Homo sapiens: one gene and its partner. The protein of the gene in region 1 interacts with the protein of each later gene in a pairwise test. Each region holds a gene or a part of one and is shown on either strand. Other genes may lie near its edges.

Region 1 (6,338 bases):
TTTTTTGTTTGATTTGGAACATCTATTCCCTACCCTGGAAGTTTTTTTTTTTTTTTTTTTTTTTTTTTTTCAAAATTCACATAACAGATGACATTTAAATCATTAATGTTATATTTTAGCTGAAGAAATTGTAACTAAAGATAGATTGTTTAAAGCAAAGCAAGAAACTTCTGAAGAAATGGAACAAAGTGGAGAAGCCTCAGGAAAGCCCAACAGGTGAGTGTCCATGGTCCTCAGTGAATCAAATCCTGCAGATATAAGAAATTGGAATGGAATCAGAGAAACCAATTGGTCAAAGGCCTGCTTCTCTGGAATAAGATATGACAACTGCCACTCACTTCTGTGATCATAGGAGGTCCATGCCAAGAAAGTGACCTATTCAAAATTTTCAATATGCAATAAATATACAAAACCTTCAGTTGATACTCAGTTTCCTCCAAGAAGCCTATCCTGATCCAGTCTGTCCTGCTTGATTACCCTTCCCTGGGCTCCCTTACATTTTTATGGAGCTGTGGAGAAGCTAGAAGGCAGATAATTTAACAAGAATGAGGGCTACAGATGAAGCTGCCATGACAGTTAAGAAAGAAATGTCAGAGTGGAAGAGGACAAGCAGGGTACAGGTTGAGCATTCCAAATCTGAAATGTTCCAAAATCTGAGCTGTTTGAGCACCAGCATGATGCTCAAAGGAAATGCTCATTGGAGCATTTTGGATTTTGGATCTTTGGTTAGGGATGCCCAACTGGTATAATGCAAATATTCCAAAATCTGAAAAAAATCCAAAATTCAAAAATCTTCTGACCCCAAGCATTTCAGATAAGGGAAAATTAACCTGTATTTTCAACCGCCATTGGGAGACCTGAACAAGGTATAGGTCAAAAGGAAAGTTAGCTGATGAAGTAGAAATGAATGACAGTGGTGTGTGCTTCATAAGTGCTGGTTGTGGGAATGAATGAACTTGTAACAGATACTCCTATGCAAAGCAAGAAACTTCTGAAGAAATGGAACAAGGTGGAGAAGCCTCGGGAATGCCCAACATTCCGAGGCTTCTCAGGATTGCAGAAAGAGAGGGAACAAATCACAAGCAGAGGGTTGGCTTCTGGTGAGGCCATTTGGTCCTCAGAGACTTGAGAAAAGAGAGAGTAAGCAAGGTGGGCTACTTGGCCAAAGAGCTGAGAAGGGGGTGTGAATTTTCCTTATTGACATTTGTTTAACTTAGAGAAACTGGGAGCTAAATCTCAGCTAAAGTAGAAATGTCTTAAAGCTCAAGAGGAGAAGTGAAATTTTGCATTAAGATTAGTGAAGACTGAGCCAGGCTCCACTAAAGGAAGAGATATGATGTTCAGTAACTTAGAGCAGAGTTATGCAACTGGAGAATAGGAATCTGCTATTGTGCCTGTAGGTACATTTAGTATCAGGCAACTAACAGGTAATTCATAGTGCCTATAATAAAGATATTCATATAACAAAAAGTGTGAAGGTAGGCTATTTCAGGTTAGGTGCAATAGCTTAACCATGGTATCAAAGGTCTAGCCCCCTGCCCTCCTTCTAGTCCCCCTCCCTCACCCCCACCCCACTTTCTTAGCTCACTCTTTTTTCCCATTTCTCACTCCCATTTCCTTCCCTCACAATATTGGGCTTAATGCACTGTGGTTCTTAGAGTTTAGATGTCAACAGTAGAAAGACTCAGTGTGATCAAGGAATGTCACTGAAGTTATGGATGTCAGGGAACTTTAAGATGGATGTGTTGAATACATGCAGACACTGAAGACACCCTGGATGATAAACACTTTACATAAAGAAATGTATGTAGTGTAAATTATATTAAAATATACTCTTCATGCTTCTTAAATGTCTTTGAAAACTTGACTAGTTTACCAACAGAACACTAATAAATTAAATGCACATGTCTAAAAATTAAAAACTTTGTGTAAAATAATACTTTTCAGTTGGGTGCAGTGGCTCATGCTTGTAATCCCAGCACTTTGGGAGGCCGAGGTGAGTGGATCACGAGGTCAGGAGTTTGAGACCAGCCTGGCCAACACAGTGAAACCCTGTCTCTACTAAAAATACAAAAATTAGTTGGGCATGGTGGCACGTGCCTGTAGTCCCAGCTACTCGGGAGGCTGAGGCAGGAGAATTGCTTGAACCTGGGAGGCAGAGGTGGCAGTGAGCTGAAATCATGCCACTGCACTCCAGCCTGGGTGACAGAGCTAGACTCTGTCTCAAAAAAAAAAAAAAACAAAACAAAACTTTTCATCTTTGTAACTTTAGCTTACTTCCTTGTAAACCCCATAAAAATCAGTCCAAGTGCAATGAGTTGAGTTTCATTTGTTTTTCCCCAGAGTAGTATGTCCATCAGATGAATGTAGAACTAGCAGGGGCTAAGTCCTTCCATGTTCAGAAATTCTGTGAGAGATGTCAGAAGACCTGGTAAATAATAACCTTTTTTTCTTGTTCAGATTCAGAACCAATTGACAGGGATGCAGGAGTAAAATAGATGGTTCTGGAAACCTCAGTTTCTTACTGACAGAAGTTAGACTGGATAAAAACGGCTTAAAGGCAGAGCTAAATAGGCTTGTACTGGCAGAGGAGGAGTGTAGCAGATGTCCCTCTGCATAGGTCTTCTCAATGCAACTTGGGGCACCAAGGAGCATGGGATGTCTGCATCCTGCTCCTAAAGAGGACAGAGGGAGGAGTGTACCAAGGATACTCAGTTATTTCTCCCAGGCTCAACAGTTAGTTCCATCCTGAGGAGTGAGTGAGAGGTGGAGAGTGGCTAGAAATGTTTAATCTAGCCAAAGTCCTCCCCATGGAAACTTAAGAGAAATAAGTAAGTATCCCCCCACACCCACCCCAAGCCCCAAAAGATTTAAGCTTCAGCAGATTTATCATGTGTGAGAGAATATGATTGAGGATTTTTATAACATGTTCTTTTTTTCTTTCCCAGAGAGTGTGCACCCCAGATTCCTTGTAGTACTCCTATTGCTACTGAAAGGACAGTTGCACATTTGAACACTCTGAAGGACCGTCACCCAGGTGATTTGTGGGCCCGCATGCACATCTCATCCCTGGAATATGCTGCAGGAGACATTACCCGAAAAGGGAGAAAAAAAGACAAAGCTCGAGTGAGTGAACTGCTCCAAGGCCTCTCATTCTCTGGTGACTCAGATGTGGAAAAAGATAATGAGCCTGAGATCCAGCCTGCTCAAAAGAAGTTAAAGGTATCATGTTTCCCAGAAAAGAGTTGGACCAAAAGAGACATTAAACCCAATTTTCCAAGCTGGTCAGCACTGGATTCTGGACTTTTGAATCTCAAGAGCGAAAAGTTGAACCCAGTAGAGCTTTTTGAATTATTTTTTGATGATGAAACATTCAACTTAATTGTCAATGAAACCAATAATTATGCTTCTCAGAAAAATGTCAGCTTGGAAGTCACAGTTCAGGAAATGAGGTGTGTGTTTGGTGTCTTACTTTTGAGTGGATTTATGAGGCATCCTAGAAGGGAAATGTATTGGGAAGTCTCTGACACCGATCAGAACCTGGTTAGAGATGCAATCAGAAGGGACAGATTTGAATTGATTTTCTCAAACCTGCACTTTGCAGATAATGGCCACCTAGATCAAAAAGATAAGTTTACAAAGTTGAGACCTCTCATAAAACAAATGAATAAAAATTTCCTCTTGTATGCTCCCCTGGAAGAATACTATTGCTTTGATAAGTCAATGTGTGAATGCTTTGATAGTGACCAATTCCTGAATGGAAAGCCTATTAGAATTGGCTATAAAATTTGGTGTGGTACAACCACACAGGGTTATCTGGTTTGGTTTGAACCCTATCAAGAAGAATCAACTATGAAGGTAGATGAGGATCCTGATCTTGGGTTAGGTGGAAATCTAGTGATGAACTTCGCTGATGTTCTTTTAGAGAGAGGTCAGTATCCCTATCACCTGTGTTTTGATAGCTTCTTTACAAGTGTCAAATTGTTGTCAGCCTTGAAAAAGAAGGGGGTGAGGGCAACAGGAACAATTCGTGAGAACAGGACCGAAAAATGTCCCCTTATGAATGTAGAACATATGAAAAAAATGAAGAGAGGGTATTTTGATTTCCGAATAGAAGAAAACAATGAGATAATTTTGTGTCGTTGGTATGGGGATGGCATTATCAGTCTGTGCTCCAATGCTGTGGGCATAGAACCAGTCAATGAGGTAAGCTGTTGTGATGCTGATAACGAAGAAATCCCTCAGATAAGTCAACCATCCATAGTAAAAGTGTATGATGAATGCAAGGAAGGTGTAGCTAAAATGGATCAAATTATTTCGAAATACAGGGTGAGGATAAGAAGCAAGAAATGGTACTCAATTTTGGTGAGCTACATGATTGATGTAGCCATGAACAATGCATGGCAACTACACAGAGCCTGTAACCCAGGTGCTTCTCTAGACCCCTTGGATTTTCGGAGATTTGTTGCACATTTCTACTTGGAACACAATGCTCATCTGTCAGATTAGGGTACATAAAATGGACATAGTGCAGACATTAATAAGACATAGAAAAATAATAATTATACATGCTGTTGTACCCTCCCAAAGTAAATCTGATATATGTAATGAAGTTATTAAATAATACTTTTAAAAATCAGACATTTATATAGAGTTTCAAAGACTATTGTAACAAGTAATGTTAAAAATTGTCTGTGAGAATGTTGAACTGTAGTACCTTTCTCTATGTCAAGTTTTGTGTCAGACATGGGAAATCATGTATTTGTTCAATTGACTACTTTGTGCACTTATTTATTTATTTTTTGAGACACAGTCTCGCTCTGCGGCCAAGCTGGAGTGCAGTGGCACGATCTTGGCTCACTGCAACCTCTGACACCCTAGTTCAAGCGATTCTCCTGCCTCAGCCTCCCAAGTAGCTGGGATTACAGGCACGTGCTGCCATGCCTAGCTAATTTTTGTATTTTTAGTAGAGACAGGGTTTCACCATGTTGGCCAGGATGGTCTCGATCTGACCTCGTGATCTGCCTGCCTTGGCCTCCCAAAGTGCTGGGATTACAGGCGTGAGCCACCATGCCCAGCTATTTTGTGCATTTAAAGAAGGAAATCCTACCTCTTAAAAAAAATTATCTGGAGAATGCCATTTTTAAGATGCAAGCAATGTTACAGAAACCATAGAATGGTGCTGACTCAATAGTTCAAACTAGTGACACAGCCTATGAAGTAAGAATGATCTAAACAAAACATAGGTGGTAAGAGACTAAAAACCTTAGCATTGGTGTAAAACTGGATCGGATTGTGTGTAAGTGAGAAGGGTCAGGCATGGATATTGAAGGAGAGTGCTATAAAGGAAAAACCAGAGGTGAAGCAGTGCCTTTGAATATTGAAATGATAGGTGTATCCTATGGTGACTGTGTGAGTTGGCAGCAGAAGTCAGAAGAGTAAAGAAAACCAAGGAAACAGGCAAATCAGGGTAACAAGTAACCAGGAGAGTGAAGGAAAAGATAGGCATAAAGTCAACATAAAGGCCAAGTTGAAATCACCTGAGGAGATGTCTAGGCTTAAGGCCATCAGTGATAGGTAACTGAAGGAGAAACACTTGGAAAAGTGAATGATACGGACTGTGACTCCTTAGTGTTGAAGTCTAGCATTGGTGGATTAGTCTGGAGGGTAGAGAAGACAGGCTCCACCTCATTTCTGTGAGTTGTAGCCACAACAGCTCTTTGCCTTTCTTTCATATCCTAATATTTACAGTCCCTTTCCTGGCTGGAAGGCAGGTGGTCAGGTTTGAATTCTTTCAACAGGTATGTTTCTTATGTGGATGACTGGTGAAAGTGTAAGCTGCGTGTAATGTAGTCACAGATTCACCTATTCCATGCAAGATGTTCAAAGAAAATATAAGTTCATTATTTCCTGTAATTGATCTGATATTCTTTGTGAAATACATCACCAGCGTGGGTTGGTTTCACTTTTAAATGATGAAGTGTCTGGTGTCTAAGTATCTCCCCACAAAAGGGTATTAATAGAATGCAGGTTTTAGTTAAATGATGAGTGGTGCAGATAGTAATTGCTAATATAGGCAGGAAATAGTTACAGAATAACTTCGTATTTCACTTTCATGTCTGCCCTGATGTTTAGAGCCCTCTAGCCATCCCCACTTGGAAGTTATCAAAGGCTGCACTTTATATCTCCCACATTCTAAATCTGCTTTTCTCTTCTCCAGGGTTCCATAATTATGTAAATAATATCACTGAACACCCAGGTTATCAAACAAGACACCTAAATGTTACCTGTGACCCTCTTCTACCACTCACCTCTAATATCTCTTGAATCCATTCACA
Region 2 (8,165 bases), on another chromosome or scaffold:
TTTGGTTAGGTCCAGACTAGAGTTTCCTAAGAAAGCCAGTTTTACTCCCTGAAGGCTCTAATTTGGGCATGATAGTGTCGTGCCCCTTTACAGCCCAGTCCAAGGCCTAAGTTGAGCCTTTGATGGTCAGCTGTGGAGTGGATGGTCACCAGGCCCAGGGAGAGATGGGACCTCTTCCCCTAGCCCTGAAAAGCTGTCTCTGGGATTGCAGCTCAAGCACTGTGAAGACCCTGTGGTGATTGATGATGGGGACAGCCCTCTGGACCAGGAGCAGGAGCAGCTGCCGGTAGAGCCCCACAGCGACCTTGCAAAGAACCAGGATGCCCAGCCCATAACCCTGGCACAGTGCCTGGGGCTCCCAAGCAGACCACCAAGCCAGCTCAGCGGGGACCCAGGTATGCAGCCCAGGGGAGTGTAGCAGGGGTGATCTGGGGAAGTGCACACCCCATACTGTGCACTGGGTGTGGTTTTTGTTAAGCTGATGGCTTTTACATCAGCAGTGTTCTCGTGTCCCCGAGGTGCTGTGAGCTGTTGTCAGGGTCTGAGTCCCTTCCTAGAGCAATTAAATGAGAACCTCATCAGGATGTTTGTCCTCTTCATGGTTCTAGAGCCTCTCAGAGCTAACGCTTCTGTAGGTGGGTGTCACTGAGGTGGTGCCCTCTCATCTCTTCGAGGGTGCATCTCTGCAGGATTTGTCAGTTTGATGACAGCTGGGGACTGCCAGTGTACAGCTGGGGCCTGCTGCATGACTGGAGCATGGCCATTTCTTGTCTCTTGGAACCTCTGTTTCCTTGGCTAAACAACTCCTGTTTACAGGAGTATTGTGATGCTGCGAAGAGATGTAGAAATACTTAGGAGGACACAGGGTGGTGTCTAGTGTGTGGGGCCAGAACATCAGCTACACATAGTTTGAGTATGTATATGAAGTACATGGTAGCTACAGGAAAGTAGTTTTTTCATCAGATAAACTTAGATTTGAATCTTCTGGTTATGACCTGAGGCATGTTTCTAAACTCTGAAAGCCTCAGTTTCTTCCTCTGTCCAGCAGAGATAGTAATTACCTTTTTTGGGGTTTTTGGACAATTAAATGAGATACAACCTACAAAAGGTTGAACACAAGGCCTGAGGTGCCCAAAACTTTAAGTACATATCATGGGAAACCAGCGCCCTTGGGTTGAAGGAAGTCTGGCCCGTGGGTTCCTCTGGGTGGACTTGCCACGGTGCTTTATATGTACAGTGGAAAGAGAGTGTCTGGGGGGCCAGGGGGGCTTTCTTATGACTCTGGGTGGACTTGCCATAGTGCTCTATAGGTACAATGGAAAGAGAGTGTCTGGGGGGCCAGGGGAGACTTTCTTATGACTTGCAGAAGTTGTGTTTGGCATTATGATAAGCTTTTCAGTAATAAAACCAAAATGCCTATTAAATTTCTGTGTGTGGAAAAACTATATTGACTTCTGTACAAATCACATAAACTCTTCAGCCTTTTCTTGCTTATAAATCAAGTTTGGTGTGTTGTTGGCTGCCATAACAAAGTACCACAGACTGGATGCCTTATGTAACAGAAATGTATTCTCTCACAGTTCAGGAGGCTGGAAGTCTGAAGTCAATGTATCAGCAGCCTTGGGTTCTTCTGAAGCCTCTCTCCTTGGCTTGTAGACATGCCTAATGTTAACACTAAGAGAAGTTTGCAGATAGACATTTAGAAGGAGCTAGGGGTTGGGCGCGGTGGCTCACGCCTGTAATCCCAGCACTTTGGGAGGCCAAGGCGGGCGGATCACCTGAGGTCAGGAGTTCGAGACCAGCCTGGCCAAGATGGTGAAACCCCATCGCTACTAAAAATACAAAATTAGTTGTGTGTGGTGGTGGGTGCCTATAATTCCAGCTTTTCGGGAGGCTGAGGCAGGAGAATCACTTGAACCTGGGAGGCGGAGATTGCAGTGAGCTGAGATCACGCCATTGCATTCCAGCCTGGGTAAAAACAGTAAAACTCCATCTCAAAACAAAACAAAAAAAAAGGAGCTAGGAGGGGAAGTCTCTTATGCCACTGGCTCTCTTTGGGACCCGTAAAAACCCATGAATATCCGGCCCTGAAAGCTGACAACAAGCTTTGTGCCAGGACTCTTGATGACGGGCGGTTTTCTTTCAGGGAAAGGAAGAGGAAGATGTTTACACTAAGAGAAGTTTGCAGAGCAGGTGTAACAGACACCTTCTCTCTCTGGGTCTCTTTATGTGGTCTTTCCTTTGTGTGTGTCTGTGTCTTAATCTCCTCTTCTTATAAGTACACCAGTCCTATTGGATTAGGGCCCACCCATATGACCTGATTTTATCTTAATGACCTCTTTAAAGACCCTATCTCCAAATACTCAGTCGCATTCTGAGGTACCTAAGGGTTAGGGCTTCAACATAGGAATTTGAGAGGGCCATAACTTAGCCTGTAACAACAGGTATAAGGGAAGCAGCCAGTCGCCCACATAATGCACGTGCAAGTAGCTTGGGTTATGCAGGAAGTGGGGGGCTGTGAGAGGCCTTGTAGTGGGGTCTGGGAAGGCATGCAGGTGGAGAGGAAGAAGTTTCAGGAACTACAGTAGCCTGTGCAGTTGCTTCTTGATAAAGTTCTGAGATAAGCCAGCAACCACAGATGGGCTTTAGGAAAACAGGGCCAGCTCTCCCATTTCCATGAGCAATAATCAATAGGCAAAGTAGGTATGATGAGAGTTAGCAATCAGGAAAACCTTAACTATTGGGACAGTTCATCATTGGAATGCACTACCTATCAGAGCTGTATAGTTCCTCATCTTGAAGATCTTCCCCAAAAGCTAGATTTTGTGTAGGGTCTGCAACTCTCCGAAGTGATTCTTGAAAGGGTCCATGTATTCATTTATCGGGGCCAAAAGTAGGGTGGGACTACATATTCATATATATATATATATATGTGTGTATATATATATATGTATGTATATATATGTGTGTGTATATATATGTGTGTGTATATATGTGTGTGTGTGTGTATATATGTGTGTGTGTGTGTATATATATATATGCGTGTGTATATATATATATACATATGTCTCAGCCTCCCAAAGTGTTGGGATTACAGGCGTGAGCCACTGTGCCCGGCCAACATGATTTTAAACTTGGAGAAGGGAGGGCTAGGGATGGGAAGGAGTTAGCCAGGTTACCCAGTTAGGGGGCATCTCCATTCATATATATATGAATATCTGGGATAGCTACATATCCCAGAAGGTGGCAGGTGTGAGGAAGCAGAACTAAAACACCACCTCCTAGCCAGGCATGGTGGCTCATGCCTATAGTTCCAGCTACTCAGGGGGCTGAAGCAGGAGGATTGCTTGAGGCCAGGAGTTTGAGACCAGCCTGGGCAACATAGCGAGAACCCACCTCTAAAAAATAAAACACCCCCTCTGGGAGACATCGGTCAAAGAGTACAAAGTTTCCGTTAGGTAAGATGAATAAATTCTGGAGATCTATGGTACAGCATGGTGAGGTTGATGAAAAATAATGCATCTTATACTTGAAAATTGCTAAGAAAGTAAATAAGAAATGTTCTCGTCACAAAAATATATGAGGTATAGATTTGTTAATTAGCTTAATTTAATCATTTCACAATGTATAGTTATCACATTGTACAGTTTTCGTATACAAAATACATACAATTTTTGTCAATTATAGCTTAATAAAACTGGGAGGTAAAAGTAAGTTAAATAAAGATGAAGATAGAAACTTAAAATGGAACATACACACAGAAAAATACCACCTCCTCAAATCTACGCCCATCCAGCCTGAGCTTCCCCTTCAGACACAGTGAAGAGGCTGCCTTCCACTGAGACCCCTAGAATGGCACTGCCATCTGTGTGGGCTCCTGGCCCCGTCCTTTGTTCCACATAGCCACTCCTGCAGCTGCTGTTTCCTGCAGGCTTTGTATTCCAGGTCTGAAAGGCCAGGGACACTGGCCTCTGGGGTTTGCTTTGATAATGACTTAACATGTGACCTGGGGTTAACCAGTAGACTATAGCACAGCTCTCCAAGTCTTAATCTGAGAAAGGAGTACCTTTTGAAACAGAGCTCATTTTTACATGGCTGCACTGTTGGCAGGGGATGTGGCTCATGGCAGAAGCCTGAACAAAGGGTAGTTTCCAATTCCAGGAGAGAAGAGTGGCAGAGTCCCTGGTAGCCCAAAATAAGGCTGGTGAGATGGTCCCAAAGCCACACTTTACATTTTGTATGAGGGTCTTTAGGACACTGTGTCAAATGCTCTTTCAGGAGTACCTACAGTGGTAACAGTTTTTCTTTTTTGTTTAATTTCTGTCTTCAAATTGACAAAAAAAAATTGTATGTATTTACAGTGTACAGTGTAATGTTTTGATATCTATACACATTGTGAAATGATTAAACCAAGCTACTTAGCTGGGCATGGTGGCACACCTGTAGTCCCAGCTACTCAGGAGGCTGAGGTGGGAGGATCCCTTGAGCTCAGGAGTTCTGTTCCAGCCTAGGCAACCTAGTGAGACCAGTCTCTTAAAAAAAAAAAAAGTCAAGCTAATTAATATAATGCATTACCTCATATACCTATCCTTTTTCTGTGTGTGGTGAAAATACTTCAGATCTACCCTCTTAGCAATTTTCAAGTACACAGTACGTTGTTACTGCCTATAGTCACCATGTTGTGCAATAGGACTCCTGAGTTTACTCCTCTCATGTCACTGAAATTTTGTACACTTTGACCAATGTCTCCCCAGTCCCCTCATTCCCTAGCCTCTGGTAACCAGCATTCTGATCTCTGCTTCTATGAGTTCAACTTTTTTAGAGTCCACATTTAAGTGAGAACATGCAGTATTTCTTTTTGTGTCTGGCTTATTGCTCGTAGCATGTCTTTCAGGTTCATTCATGTCGTCAAAAATGACAGGATTTTCCTTCTTTTTTTATGGAGTTCCACAGTAATTCTGATTGCCAACAGCCCTTACTTTTTTTTTTTTTTTTTTTCATTTGAGACAGAGCCATGTTCTGTCACCCAGGCTGGAGTGCAGTGGTGCAGCTGTGGCTCACTGCAGCCTCCATCTCTCAGGCTCAAGCAATCCTTCTGTTTCAGCTTCCCAGTTTTTTTATTTTTAATAGAGATGCGGTCTCCCTATGTTGCCCAGACTGGTCTTGAACTCCTGAGCTTAAGCAATCCTCCCACTTTGGCTTCCCAAAGAGCTAGGATTACAGGCATGAGCCACCACATCCAGACCCTAAGAGTCCTTATAGATTCCTCAACTCTACGGCTTTTTCTTTTTCTTCTTCTTTTTTTTTTTCTTTTTCTTTTTAAGAAACAAATACTCTGTGTTGTCCCTGCTGGTCTGGAACTCCTGGGCTCAAGTGATTCTCCCACCTCAGTCCCCAAAATAAGAATAGCTGAGATTACAGGCATGTACCACCACACACGGCTGAACTCCATAGAGTTTTAACCTTTATTTTCCCATAGTTTGGATAACAATGCTGAGGTCCGGGGACCTACCCGAGGTGAAAGAGTTCATTTAATTGACCGTGCTATCATGAACCCAGGCACACTCTGTTACAGCCCCCCTTGTTATATCTGGAAACAAAGTCGCAGCAATCTTTGTGGTTTACAGAGTACTTTTCATGTGCGTCATTTTGTAATCCTCATTTTACAGTTAAGAACAGAGACTGGGGTTTTATGAAAAGCACCATGAAACAGTTCCCTGTTGGTGCCTCTCTTGTGATTTTCTTTGCTACCAAAATGGAAATGAAGAGCCGCAGGAAGCTCAGAAGGTATCAGCACCAGGCCTGGCCCTGGCCCACTTTAGGACACCATTTTCTGATCTCTTTCAGTTCTGCAAGATGCTTTCCTTCTTCAGGAAGAGAATGTGCGGGACACACAGCAGGTGACCACCCTCCAGCTACCCCCGGTGAGTGGTTTCTACAGGAGTCCTTGAAAATCCCCTGTTTGCCTCTGTAGGCTACAGGGCAGCTTTCTTAGGACCCCAGCCAGCTTTCTGACTGCCACACAGGATGTTCAGTCCCAGCCCAGAAAAGCTAAAATAGGCAGAGCGTGAGCTTAAGAGACGCCCCATTTCTCCTCCTTCCCTGTGGTCCCAGCCGCCCACTGGGTCTACTGTCATCAGGCCACCTTCAGGAAGCTTTGTGCAGACGATAGCAGGAAACAAAGGCCCATGAGTCCCCATTGATGGGCCTCTCAGCATGTCTAAGTTCCCCTCTTGTGAAAAAGGAGATCTCTCTGCTCTTTTATTTTACAGAGAATTTTTCAATTTAATAATCATCGCAGCAATGGTTATATTTTAGAAATGTTAGGAAGTGGAGGGAAGAAAGCACAGATAATTTCAGTCCTGTCACAGATCTACGTGGTGAGTCATTCCAGAATTTCCTCGAATGTTCTCGTTCGTGTTTTTGTGTAAGACTTGCTTACTCGGGTGCTCTGAGGAGTCAGAGTCAGGGCTGGGGGCTGGTCCAGCAGGTGATCTTACTCGCCTCTCTCTAGCCCAGTTGCTGTCTTTGGCCATGTTTTCTGGCCATATCTCCTTCACTTTCCCTCCTAACACTTTCCACTGGCTGGCACAAGATTTAGTTATGACAGCATCATCCCCTCCCATGGGAACAGGATGTGTGGCTCCTGCTTTTGTTTAGTTGCTCCTTACCCAACAGAAAACTGTGAAAAACAGTAGACACTCTTATTACCATGTCTCAGCAGAATGTCGGAAGCTGAGCAGTTTGCTTTCTGCACAGTTCATTTGACATGACTTTATTTTATTTTTATTTTTAGAGACAGGGTCTTGCCTTGTCACCCAGGCTTCAATGCAGTGGCACAGTCGTAGTTCACTGCAGCCTCAAACTCCTGAGCTCAAGCCATCCTCCCACCTCGGTCTCCTGAGCAGCTGGGACTACAGGTGCATGCCACTACACCCAGCTAAGTTTTGTATTTCCTTGTAGAGACAGGGTCTCGCCATGTTGCCCAGGCTGGTCTCAAACTCCTGACCTCAAGTGATCCTCCTGTCTCAGCCTCCCAAAGTGCTGGGATTACAGGCATGAGCCACTGTGCCCAGCCAACATGACTTTAAACTTGGAGAAGGGAGGGCTAGGGATGGGAAGGAGTTAGCCAGGTTACCCAGTTAGGGGGCATCTCCATAACTTGCTTTTGCCCCACCAGAAATGTGGCACACGCCTGTTTACCCTGATGCTCAACACATACATGTCAGCATCTGCTGTGTACTGTGACCATTTCCAAACACAAAGGAGGTAAAACCAGTATTTCTTATTAAAATTTGGACATTTAACCAGTATAACACATAAGGGGATGCTGTTAATCCAGTACCTAATGAGGTTTGGTCTTCATCTTTCAATTCCTGCAGTCCCTAGTAAATGCCATAGCGAGCACAGTACAGAGATTTTGATAAGTCAGTACTGTTGTATTACTCTGATAGTTTCTTCCCAGTGATAGTTTCTTCCCAGTGCACTAAAAGTCACCATCATGAAGATGTTGTTTATAAGTGTTTTTTAATTTCTGTTTTTAATTGTGGTAATATACACATAGCGTAAAATTTTCCATCTTAACTGTCTTTAAGTGTGCGGTTCAGTGGTGTTAAGTATATTTACATTGTTGTACACCCAATCTGTAGAACTTTTTCATCTTCCCAAACTGAAATTCTCTATACGTTAAATAATAACTCCTCATTTACCCTTTCCCTTAGCCCCTGGCAACCTCCATGCTACTTTTAGTCCCTATTAATTTGACTATAAATACCTCATATAATTGGAATTATGCACTATTTGCCTTTTTGTGACTGGCTTATTTCATTCAGCATAATGTCCTCAAGGTTCATCTATGTTGCAGTATGTGTCGGAATTCCCTTCCGTGTTTTTTTTTCCCCCGAGATGGAGTCTTGCTCTGTCGCCCAGGCTGAAGTGTAGTGGCTCGATCTCGGCTCATCGCAACCTCCGCATCCCGGGTTCAAGCAATTCTCCTGCCTCAGCCTCCCGAGTAGCTGGGATTACAGGCACCCGCAACCACGCTTGGCTAATTTTTGTATTCTTAGTAGAGACGGGGTTTCACCATGTTAGTCAGGCTCTTGAACTCGAACTCTTGACCTCGTGATCCACCTGCCTCGGCCTCCCAAAGTGCTGGGATTACAGGC

The links. The genes of interacting proteins can lie anywhere in the genome.
Region 2: the proteins of PGBD1 (region 1) and ZNF496 interact in binary tests that used the Homo sapiens proteins (3 or more experiments, as listed by UniProt).

Annotation. Positions count from the first base shown.
Region 1 is NC_000006.12:28,297,776-28,304,113, forward strand, and holds the end of PGBD1 (piggyBac transposable element-derived protein 1), read left to right. Parts: intron 1-119; coding exon 120-216; intron 217-2,948; coding exon 2,949-4,509; 3' UTR 4,510-4,774; downstream 4,775-6,338.
Region 2 is NC_000001.11:247,320,913-247,329,077, reverse strand, and holds part of ZNF496 (zinc finger protein 496), read left to right. Parts: intron 1-211; coding exon 212-395; intron 396-5,847; coding exon 5,848-5,924; intron 5,925-8,165. UniProt on the Homo sapiens protein: DNA-binding transcription factor that can both act as an activator and a repressor.